Homo sapiens: one gene and its partners. The protein of the gene in region 3 interacts with the protein of the main gene of each other region in a pairwise test. Each region holds a gene or a part of one and is shown on either strand. Other genes may lie near its edges. The genes, in order: MAPK8, MS4A3 and CLDN6.

Region 1 (3,650 bases), on a different chromosome or scaffold from region 3:
ATAAACTATTTAATCCCCATTAAGCAATGAGATCTCTACTGAAGTTCAGCTAAGTACCTAACTACCATATAATTTTATAAGGATGAGCAACCTGCCCCAATCCAGTTGCCAAATCAAACTCACTCTTTGCACCCTCTCACTCCTGTGCTTTCCTGACTTGATTTTTGCATTTTTCCAAGCTTAAGACCCTCCTGTCTACATTCATTCACTTCATACTTCTCATATCTTGACCTCTACTTTGACTGCATGCTCTCTGACACCAGACTAAATTATATTTCCGGGAGCTGCCTCTGGGTGCTAAGCACATAGAAAGCAGCCTATACACATAGTCACACCTTGCTTAAGGACGGGGATACCTTCTGAGAAATGCATCATTAGGCAATTTCGTCACTGTGCAAACATCATGGAATCTACTTACACCAACCTAGATAGTACAACATACCTAAGCTATAATATGGTGTAGCCTACTGACCCTAGGCTACGAACCTGTACAGCAGGTTACTGTACTGAATACTGCAGGCAACTGTAACACAATGGGAAGTATTTGTGTATCTAAACATAGAAAAAATAGAGTAAAAATATGGTATAATTTTATGGGACCACTGTCACATATGTGGTCTGTAATGGACCGAAACCTCACCATGTGGTGCATGACTGTATCATCAAATAAGACACAAGGCAGTTAACTGCTAATCCTACATTCACTATCAAGTGATCCCCAACTTGTCCATTTAACATTTTGAAAACCACAATTCATTTCAAGTTACATTAACTTTAGAGAGAAAACTTCACACTACTTTAAGTATTCCCATAATCCCTCCCTAATTTCATTATTATTCATAACATTTAAATACTCAACAGATAAACAGATATTTTGGCTCATTTTACATATAATGGAGGAAAACTATAATCTTCTAAAATCACCACTATAAATGCAATAAGAAAAAATATAAGAGTATAAAAAGTTGGGGGAGGGAGGAGGTAAAAATCAAAGGAAACAAAAAAGCTGGCATGACATAAGAAAAATAAAAAATTCAACTACAAAACTATTAGAAATAATAAATATTCTACAGGGGGCTTATTATTTAATATATGAAATATTAACTAATATACAAAATAAAAAGCTTTCTTATATATAACCAGATAGAAGATAAAAGTGGAAAAAAAGATGCCATTTCCAGCAAAAAAAAAAAAACTTAAATATATAAAACAGCAAAAAAAAATTTTAATGTTTAAAAATGCTATCAGGAACTCAAAATGAGACTTCAACAAATGAAAAGGTTGTTTTTCCTATTCTTGGATATAAAGGTACATCATAAAGCTGTCACTTATTCTATAAATACAAAGAAATCCTAACAGTACACTGAATCCATTTAATAGAAGCCAATCACTGGGGAGCAAGGTAACTTGAAAAGGATGTAAGAAAAGGTTCTGGGTGATGGAAGTGTTCTGTATTTTGATCTGGGATTGCACAAGTGTATACAAAGGCAAACTTATTGGACTGTAATGCTTGTGCATCTAGCTGTGCATAATTTTACCACAATAAAATAAAAAAAGTGATTCCAACAGAAAGACTGGCAGAGGAGGGGTACAGACTAGACTAGATGGGTTGTTTTTAGAAGTTCATATAAAATAAACAAGATAGAAGCCAGAAAAAAACTTCTGAAAAGGAAGAGAAATAAAAGGGAATTAGACCTAGCAGAAAACACAGCATAAACTACAATAATAAAAACAGGATGGCTCAGGTCCCAAACAGGCAGATGGGTCAATGGAAACAATGGTACCAAATACACGTGGAAATTTTGTAAATGGTAAAGGTGGCATTTTAAATCAGTTAAGACAAAGATGGATTATTTAATAAATGGTGTAGGGACAAATGGATGGATATCTGGTGAAGAAAATAAAGTTGGAACCATACATAATAGCCTACCATAGAATGGAAAACAGCAAATTGGGGAAAAACATTTCCAAAAAATAGCATGGAGCCAATTTGTAAAATTAATCCTACAAATCTAGGAAAATGAGCAACAAAGCAATAGAAAAACATGCAAAGACAAGGACAGTTCAAAAGAAAGAAAACACAAACAGCCCTTAAAAGATGAAAGACGTCTAAGGGTAATAAGAAGCAGGCATCCTTACACAGTGCTGGTGGAATGGAAGTTGGACAACCTCTACAGGCTACACTTCAGCAATACATAAAATTACAAATGCACATACGCTGGCCTAGGAACTCTACCTCTGGAAATTTATCCTATGCATTTAAGTGCAACACGACGTATGCACAAGGTAATCCACTGCACCATGGCTTTTGATAGCAAAAGTCTGAAAACTACCTAAATATGCATCAGAAAGGAGTTAAATGGTATACCAGTATAATGATGTTATGGACTGTCTGTGTCCCTCCAAATTCATATGTTGAAGGCCTACCCTCTAACTTGATAGTATCTGGAGGAGAGACCTTTAGGAGTTAACTAAGCCTCTCATGACTATATTAGGTCATGAGGGTGGAGCCCCCATGATAGGATGAGGAACAGACTAGAGCTCTTAGGGGCCATGTGAGGATACATCCAGAAGCCGGCCACCTATAAAGCCAGGAAAAGGACCCTCACCAGGGAACCAAATTGACTAAGTAGCCTAATCTTGAACTTCCCGACCTCCAGAACTGTGAGAAATAAATTTCTGTTGTTTAAACCACTCAAGTTATGGTATTTTGATATAGCAGCCCAAACAGAGTAAGACAAATGGAATACCACAAAGATGTTAAAAAAGCATGCCATTTACATACTGATATGACTGATATAAAATAATCTCTCAGCTATATTAAAACAAAAAGCAGGCCACGTGCGGTGGCTCACACCCGTAATCCCAGCACTTTGGAGGCCAAGGCAGGTGGATCACCTGTAATCCCAGCTACTCAGGAGGCTGAGGCAGGAGAATCACCTGAACCTCGGAGGCAGAGGTGGCAGTGAGCTGAGATTGTGCCACTGCACTCCAGCCTGGGCAACAAGAGTGAGACTCCGTCTCAAAAAACAAACCAACAAGCAAAAAACAAAAAAGCAAAAGGTGATACATATTGCATGCAACAACTTACATTAAATAAAAAGGGAGGGAGCAGAGCAGAGGCTATACAGTACTGTATATATGTATGACACCTATCCTTCATTGGCAAAGCCAAAATCCATAAAGCTGTGAAAAATACGTTTTTAAAATAAGTTTAGTACAAACGTATTTGGTGGTAAAACCTGACGAGACGTAGCATAAGATTTTATAATCTTTATTCACCCTACTTGTATTTGTTATGCTTTTATAAAAATATTAATGTCTTTGATTATTTCTGGGTGTTGTTGTTGTTGTTGTTTTTTGAGACAGAGTCTACACCTCTGCCGCCCAGGCTGGAGTGTAGTGGCACGATCTCAGCTCACTGCAACCTCCGCCTCCTAGATTCAAGAGATTCTCCTGCCTCAACCTCCCAAGTAGCTGGGATTACAGGCGTACGCTACCACGCCCAGCTAATTTTTGTATTTTTAGTATAGACGGGGTATCACTATGTTGGCCAAGCTGGTCTCAAACTCCTGACCTCAGGTGATCCGCCCGCCTCGGCCTCCCAAAGTGCTCAGATTACAGGCGTGAGCCACCGCGCCTGGCCTATG
Region 2 (3,650 bases), on a different chromosome or scaffold from region 3:
AAATTTCTTAACTCTCAAGCCAGGACTCTCTGCTGTACCACAAGGCAATTCATCAATACCCATTTTTCATTCAATTTTTTAAGTATCTATAAATGTAACATATAGTTATATATAAGATAATTTTTAGGACTTCATTTGTACTTGGCAAATGTGGTTTCTCTTAATCAGAAAGAGATTTTTGGCCTGGCATCAGGGCTCATGCCTGGCAATTCCAGCATTTTGGGAGGCCAAGCTGGGAGGACCACTTGTGGTCAGGAGTTCGAGACCATCCTGGAAAACATGGTGAATCCCTGTCTCTACTAAAAATACAAAAACAAAAATTAGGTGGGCATGGTGGTGCATGCCTGTAATCCCAGCCACTCAGGAGACTGAGGCAAGAGAATCACTTGAACTGGGGAGGCAGAGGGTTTCAGTGGGCAGAGATCATGCCACTGCACTCCAGCCTGGATGGCAGATCGAGACTTTGTCTCAAAAAATAAATTAATTAAGTAATTAATTAAATTAAAAAATAAAAAAGAGTTTATCGTCTCTAATTGTTTATATCAAGAATTGCAAATCAAAACCACAGCATGCAACCTTCCAATAACCTACAAACAATATTTTTGTCATCAAACACATCTCCAGCAGTGGTATCTAAGAAATAACATATAGCCAGGGGAGTACGAATACTCACAAACACAGCACCCCAAATCGGGTAGCCTGTGTAGAAGGTGAAGAAAAAGAAGTGCTTTTGGAAGTGGTATGGGTATTGCAAGGAACCCAGAAAGACACCCAAAGCCAGAATCATTGCTGCATTCAGGATCTGGATGGCCTGAAAGAAGAAAGGGGAAAAAGGCGTAACAGTCATATACTAAAGTGGACACTGAAAACAGGCCATTTTAATTTTCCTCAGAAAGGAGATGTCGGTGCTTGAAATGGTTAAAGTGTCAAGCCTAAATTAACAGAACGAGAGCTTATCTGAAAGAGTTTTTTATTCCACGCTATCCACACCAATTCCAGTGGCAGCATTTTGTCTTCACCTCTCCCCCACATTTCTGTTCATTCTCACGAACTCCTCTCAGAAAGTGGCAGGACAGTAAAACAGACATGATTGGTAAGGTAGATGGAGTCAAAGTCTCTTCCCAGCATGCTTTTGCATCATAATATGATGAAGGCAGACAGAGGATAAGCCATATCCTACTCAGCCTTTCTCTCAACCCAATTTTTAACCCTTCTCTCAACCCAATTTTTAAATTTAAAATATAGAATATAAGCTTCATAGAGCTCAGCCTCCTCAAATGGCTGGTCAAAAGGCACAAAACAAAAAATGAAGGGTCTTGGAATCTGTTCTCCAAGGTTTGATGTTTTCTACCATGAGAAAATGCCTTTGCATTTCTGCTCCCCAGATCTATAAGAAGTCCCTGTCTTTTCTCCAATCATTATTAAGTCAGTGATAAATAACTCAGAATTTCCTCCTTCTCAGCATAAGCAAGGTTTTCTACATGATACAGTTGGCTCTTGAACAACATTGGGGTTTGGAATGCCCACCCTTTCATGGTGGTAAATCCACGTAAAACTTATGACTTCCCAAAAACTTAACTACTAATAGCCTACTGTTGACCAGAAGTCTTACTATTAATATAAACAGTCGATTATCACATATTTTGTATGTGACATATTATATACAATAAGCTAGAGAAACTAAAAACGTTAAGGAAATCATAAGAAAGAGAAAATGTATTTACTATTCATTAAGTGGAAGTAGATTATCATAAAGGTCTTCATCCTCATCCTCTTCACGTTGAATAGACTGAGGAAGAAGAGGGAGAGCAGGGGTTGTTCTTGCTGTCTCGGGATGGCAAACAGAGGTGGAAGAAATCCACATGTAAGGGAATCCTCACAGTTCAAACGCACGTTATTCACAGGTCAACTGTATTTATTTTCTTCCCTCTTAAATCAGTGTTTAAACTAAGGCTGACTTACCCCAAGAACTTGTAATTTTGCTTTCTGATAATCTGGTGATCCATCTATGGGCTGGTAGACAGAAGTATTCAGCTCTTCTGGTCCCGCCTCACTGCCTGGGGTACCATGGGCAGAGGCTGACCCCAGCTCTGCATTATCAACTTCGTGGGAGGCCATTGGGGTTGTTTATGGCTGTGATAGAAAAGAAATCCAAAGCCTTCATGCTTTCCCTTTTTCCACTAGCTACTAAAATTTTGAGTGTTACAGAAGGGTTCAATTCTGTCCATACATTACAATGACTCTCCACAAATGGGACACCAGGGCAGAGTAACAGAGTTTGTACAATATTCAATTCTGTCTTGCCTTGGAGTAGTAGACATCATCGGGTCATTGTAGTAGGCCTTGGTGCTTCACTTAACTTTGGAATGGTAAAGAGCAATTTCTTTCTCATTTTGCATGCACTGATATATAGTCCCTGCCTTTCTTCAAGTCAGTCAAGGGCAACCAGACATATGGTTTCTCTGAGCAGTGGTCTCTTTATAAGAATAATGGCTTTAGTCACATTCCAGTAATAATAGTAGGTGTCATTTATTTAGTACTTATTACTATATGCCAAGCACTGTCTGGATGCTGTGAATGTATTAATATACTTAATCCTGTTATAATATTATTATTATTCCCGTTTCACAGATGAAAAAAATTGAGGTATAGAGAGACCGAGAAACTTACCCAAACTCATATGGCTTATAAATCATTTCAGATTTTACTAAAAACATTCTACTCTAAGGTCCAATATTTTTCAAATCACCACATTATATAGTACTATATAGAAGACGTCTTTCTGAGTACCAACATAGCATGGTAGAGTTTAAGCACTATGGAAGATCCAAATTCAAATCCAGATTTCATCATTTACTAGTTGCATGACCTAGTAATGGGAACCTCAGTTTTCAGAGTTTAAGCACTATGGAAGATTCCAATTCAAATCCAGATTTCATCACTTACTAGTTGCATGACCTTGTAGTGGGAACCTCAGTTTTCACTTCTGTAAAAATGGGAATAATTTTAATTTTATATTAACATTGCGAGAGTTGACTTTGATAATGTACGGAATTCTCAACCTGTGAACAGGTGGTATCAGCTTTTAACTTATACTCTGCCTTCTAACAAAAAGGACTTCAAGTTTGTATATATATAAGGGTCACAAAACAACCACCTCAATCATTACAGCTGAAAAATATGTATCACTAAAGTACACACAGAATGCTTACATTGGACTTCTGAATGTTGGGCAAGATAACTTCCTAATTCATAGTACCCTCCTACACAAAATAGTTGTAAAATGCTTATATGCTTTTATAACTGATGAGGGAGATGGCATGAGATGAACCATAAACAAACACATAAAATGATGCTGTATTCTGCCATAACTATCGATTGGGTTAAGAATAAGATCTTAATATAAATCATTCTACCATAAAACACATGCACGTGAATGTTCATTGCAGCACTATTCACAATAGCAAAGACATAGAATCAACCTAAATGTCCATCATTTGTAGACTGGATGAAGAAAATGTGGTACATACACACTGTGGAATACTATGCAGCCATAAAAAGGAATGAGATCATGTCTTTTGCAGGAACATGGATGAAGTAGAAGCCATTATCCTTAGAAAGCTAATACAGGAACAGAAAACCAAATACCA
Region 3 (4,333 bases):
AAAATAGCAGGAGGCAGAAACAAAAGGTACGAACCCATCCCAAAGCTGTTGGGCACTGCCACTTCTGGATGGCTCTAGCGCCAGCGGAGCCCCCATTCCCCTCCACGTCAGACGTAATTCTTGGTAGGGTACTCAGAGGGCCCCCGAGAGATGGCAGGGGCAGATGTTGAGTAGCGGGCCATGTAATGGCTGGGGCCCTGGGACCCCCCCGAGGGGCAAGTGCAGCACAGCAACCCCCCACCCAGCAACAAAAGGCCTGAGGCCGCCCAGCCCAAGTAGAGGGAGGCCCCCAGCTCCCGCTTTTGGGCCTCAGCCACCAGGGGGTTATAGAAGTCCCGGATGATGGCATGCGCCGTCCAGCACACGGGGATTAGCGTCAGGACCCCTGAGATGACAAAGACAATCCCAGAGGTGAGCACCAGGCGGGCCTTGGAATCCTTCTCCTCCACACAGGTGGTACACTTGGCCCCAGCAAGGTAGACCAGCAAGCCGAACAGGGCCACAAGGAGGGCGATGACACAGAGGGCACGTGCAGCCTGCAGGTCCTGTGGCAGCGCCAGCAGTGAGTCGTACACCTTGCACTGCATCTGGCCGGTGCTCTGCACCACGCAGGACATCCACAGGCCCTCCCACACCACCTGGGCCACCACGATGCTGTTGCCGATGAAAGCGGTCACCTTCCACATGGGCAGGGCACAGGAGACCAGGCCATTCACCCAGCCCAGCAGTGTCAGGACGACTCCCAGGATCTGCATTCCGGCAGAGGCCATGGCGAGGTTGAAGGAGCTGCACTGTGTTTGGGACAGAAGCACAACAAGGTGAGGCCTGGCAGGCCCAGACCTCAGGCCACATGTGGACAGGACTCTAGGGGCATGCACCCTGGAAAGTGGTCATCACATCCTGGAACTCAGTCAAGACATGCTCCCTGAGCCTCACTTCTCGTGGGCAAAATGGACACTTAATGCTTTAGCATTTATTATTCTTTCTAGTTATGTGACAGGCACTGGCTGATGACAGTGACTGTGCAAGCAGCCCTGCCCTGGCTATCCTGAATGCAAATGAAAGATAACAGGATGAAACCTATACAATGACAGTCCAAGGCCAGAGCCAGTGATCAGGCTGCAAGGCGGCAAAAAGCAGGATGACAGGACGGTGCGATTTCCAAGCAGTTTCCGTGTAGAATGGTTCAATTCTAGCCCTGAGTTTAAGGCTCAAAACTTGTCCATTTGTTTTGTTTGTTTGTTTGAGACGAGGAGTCTCGCTCTGTGGCCCAGGCTAGAGTGCAGTGGTGCCATCTCCACTCACTGCAACCTCTGCCTCCCAGGTTCAAGCGATTCTCCTGCCTCAGCCTCCCAAGTAGCTGGGATTACAGGTGCACACCACCACGCCCGGCTAATTTTTTTTTTTTTTTTTTAAGACGGAGTCTCGCTCTGTCGCCCAGCCTGGAGTGCAGTGGCGGGATCTCGGCTCACTGCAAGTTCTGCCTCCCCGGTTCACGCCATTCTCCTGCCTCAGCCTCCCGAGTAGCTGGGACTACAGGCGCTCACCACCACGCCCGGCTAATTTTTTTGTATTTTTAGTAGAGACGGGGTTTCACTGTGTTAGCCAGGATGGTCTCGATCTCCTGACTTCGTGATCCTCCCGCCTCAGCCTCCCAGAGTGCTGGGATTACAGGCATGAGCCACCACACCTGGTCTTAATTTTTGTATTTTTAGTAGAAACAGGGTTTCATCAAGTTGGCCAGGCGGGTCTCGAACTCCTGACCTCAGGTGATCTGCCCGCCTCAAGCCTCCCAAAGTGCTGGGATTACAGGTGTGAGCCACCGTGCCCAACCAAAACTTGTTAATTTCAACACTAAGATTGGAGATCCTAAGCTTCCTCCCACCACCCAATGTCCCTCACAACTTGGTTCCACACCCCAGGCTGGCAGACACCAGGACCAGGAGAGATGAAGAAAAGCATCATTAATCCCCCATCTAAAAGCAGTTCCTCCCCCAAAGCCAGTGGATAACTCCCTGGCCCCACCCTTCTGACCTGCCCTAGGCGCCGGAGAGCATAGCCTCAAGGCTGAGGGCCTTTTCCTATGAATTCTAGACGAAAATGCCGTGCTAGACTCCCCTCAACACCAGTTCTCCCACCGCCACCTGGCCTGCACCTGTGTCCCCTCAGTGTTGGAGGTCGTGGAGGGAATCACTTCTGACTAGGGCCGGGCTGTGGCCTCCCACTGCCCAGAGTACTTTCATTGTACGGCTTGGACCTAAACTTTTCCCGGCCGGCAGCGGTCGGAGGGCAGGCTCTACTCATTAGCCGGGGGCCCCAGGCCTGGGCGGAGCAGACCACCTTGGGGAGACTGGCTGGGGCACGGTGCCCCAGCGCTCAGGTCCGGCCCTTAGGCCTCTGGCCGAGTTAGGGTCGGGGCCGCGCTGGTATAGGCGCCCAGGCCTCTCCCCTCTGAGTGTGCCCCTGCCCCTTTCTTTTTCATGCACTGCATGAAAAAGACTCTGTCCGAGGGCGCCCCGGCCCACCCGACCACCCCAGCCTGGGAGCCGCGCGCCCTGGAGGGGTTCTATAGCTGCAGTGGCCGCAAGGTCCGCTCCCCCAGGTGAGGGGGAGGGGGGAGGGGCGCCCCGCCCCGAGAGGCAAGGCAGGTGGGGGAGGGGCGCCAGGGGTTTCGGAGTCTTTGTCCCTGGGGAGGGGGGAGGGGCGTTTAACCCTTGGGAGCCCCGAAGGACCCTATCACCTCGGAGGCTTGGGCGCGGACCGGCCGACCCCCTCAGGGACTCGCCCATCCAGGTGGCCGCAGCCCGAGTTCGCACGCACCCCTACCCACGCCGCCACCACCCTGCACCCGGCCCCAAGAGGCGTCTCTCCAACACGCACACTAGCCCCGGACTCACCTGCGAAGGAGATAAGGGAAATTCCTAGGCCGAGTGTCGGGACAGGGGCGGAGGCGGGGGTCTTAAAGAAGCGGTGACGTCACTGGACCACCGCCCCGGAGGAGGGGCAGAGACCCTGTCCCTGACGGCAGCGGGCGTGCGAATCCCAGGCTTGTCAGAGGGGGGCGCTGGAGGCTGGGGTCGCTGGGCCCGCCTCGGGCTGGCAGACGTCCAGACTCACCCAGGGTGAGGGCGCCAGGCTTAGGGTAGAACAGAGCTTGAGACTCCGCTTCACCACTTAAGCAGCGCGGTGACATGGGGAACTCACCTAACCTTCCCGAGCCTTCGTTTCCTACTCTGCAAAATGGAGATAACAAGTCTGCATTTTATTATGTAACTACGTCCTAAGGTACAAATTAAAGGGCATACTATTGGTATTATTTTAGAGAAATATTTTCACTGTGTCACCCAGGCTGGAGTGCAGTGGTGCGATCACGGCTCACTGCAGTCTCGACCTTCTGGGCTCAAGCGATCCTCCCGCCTCAGCCTCCTGAGTAGCTGGGACTACAGGCAGCACACGCCACCGTGCCCAGCTAATTTATGTTTTGTTTTGTATAGACAGGGTCTTGTTATATTGCCCAGGCGTCTCGAACTCCCGGACTCAAGCGATCCGCCCGCCTTGGCCTCGCACTGCGCTGGGATTACCGGCTTAAGCCACCGCGCCCGGCCAGATAATATTATTTTTATGTTGCTGGTTTTTTGTTGTTGTTGTTGTTTGTTTTTGAGATGGAGTCTCGCTCTCTCGCCAAGGCTGGAGTGTGGTGGCGCGATCTTGGCTCACTGCAAGCTCTGCCTTCCGGGTTCACGCCATTCACCTGCCTCAGCCTCCAGAGTAGCTGGGACTACTACAGGTGCCCGCCACCACCCCCGACTAATTTTTTTGTATTTTTAGTAGAGACGGGGTTTCACCGTGTTAGCCAGGATGGCCTCGATTTCCTGACCTCGTGATCTGCCCGCCTCGGCCTCCCAATGTGCTGGGATTACAGGCGTGAGCCACCGCGCCCGGCCTGTTTTGTTTTTTGAGATGGAGGCCCTCTCTGTCGCCCAGTCTGGAGTGCAATGGCGCTATCTCGACTGACTGCAACCTCCGTCTCCCAGGTTCCAGAAATTCTCCTGCCTCAGTCTCCCGAGTAGCTGAGATTACAGGCGCCCACTACCACGCCCGGCTAACTTCTTTCTTTTTTTTATTTTTAGTAAAGACGGGGGTTCACCAAGTTGGCCAGGCTGGTCTCGAGCTCCTGACCTCAGGTTTAATTGTTATACCCCCCGGGCCCTTAACAAAGCTGTAGTGGCCAGGCTAACCTGGGCAACATAGTAAGACCCTGGTCTCTACAAAAAATACAAAAATTAGCCGGACGTGGTGGGGCAGGGCCTGTGGTCCCAGCTACTTGGGAGGC

What was found.
Region 1: the proteins of CLDN6 (region 3) and MAPK8 interact in binary tests that used the Homo sapiens proteins (3 or more experiments, as listed by UniProt).
Region 2: the proteins of CLDN6 (region 3) and MS4A3 interact in binary tests that used the Homo sapiens proteins (3 or more experiments, as listed by UniProt).

The regions. Positions count from the first base shown.
Region 1 is NC_000010.11:48,313,147-48,316,796, reverse strand, and holds part of MAPK8 (mitogen-activated protein kinase 8), read right to left. Parts: intron 1-3,650. UniProt on the Homo sapiens protein: Serine/threonine-protein kinase involved in various processes such as cell proliferation, differentiation, migration, transformation and programmed cell death.
Region 2 is NC_000011.10:60,059,629-60,063,278, reverse strand, and holds part of MS4A3 (membrane-spanning 4-domains subfamily A member 3), read right to left. Parts: intron 2,134-3,650; 5' UTR 2,119-2,133; coding exon 1,963-2,118; intron 1,757-1,962; exon of another isoform or gene 1,725-1,756; intron 812-1,724; coding exon 674-811; intron 1-673. UniProt on the Homo sapiens protein: Hematopoietic modulator for the G1-S cell cycle transition. Modulates the level of phosphorylation of cyclin-dependent kinase 2 (CDK2) through its direct binding to cyclin-dependent kinase inhibitor 3 (CDKN3/KAP).
Region 3 is NC_000016.10:3,015,252-3,019,584, forward strand, and holds the start of CLDN6 (claudin-6), read right to left. Parts: upstream 2,933-4,333; 5' UTR 2,898-2,932; intron 792-2,897; 5' UTR 771-791; coding exon 108-770; 3' UTR 1-107.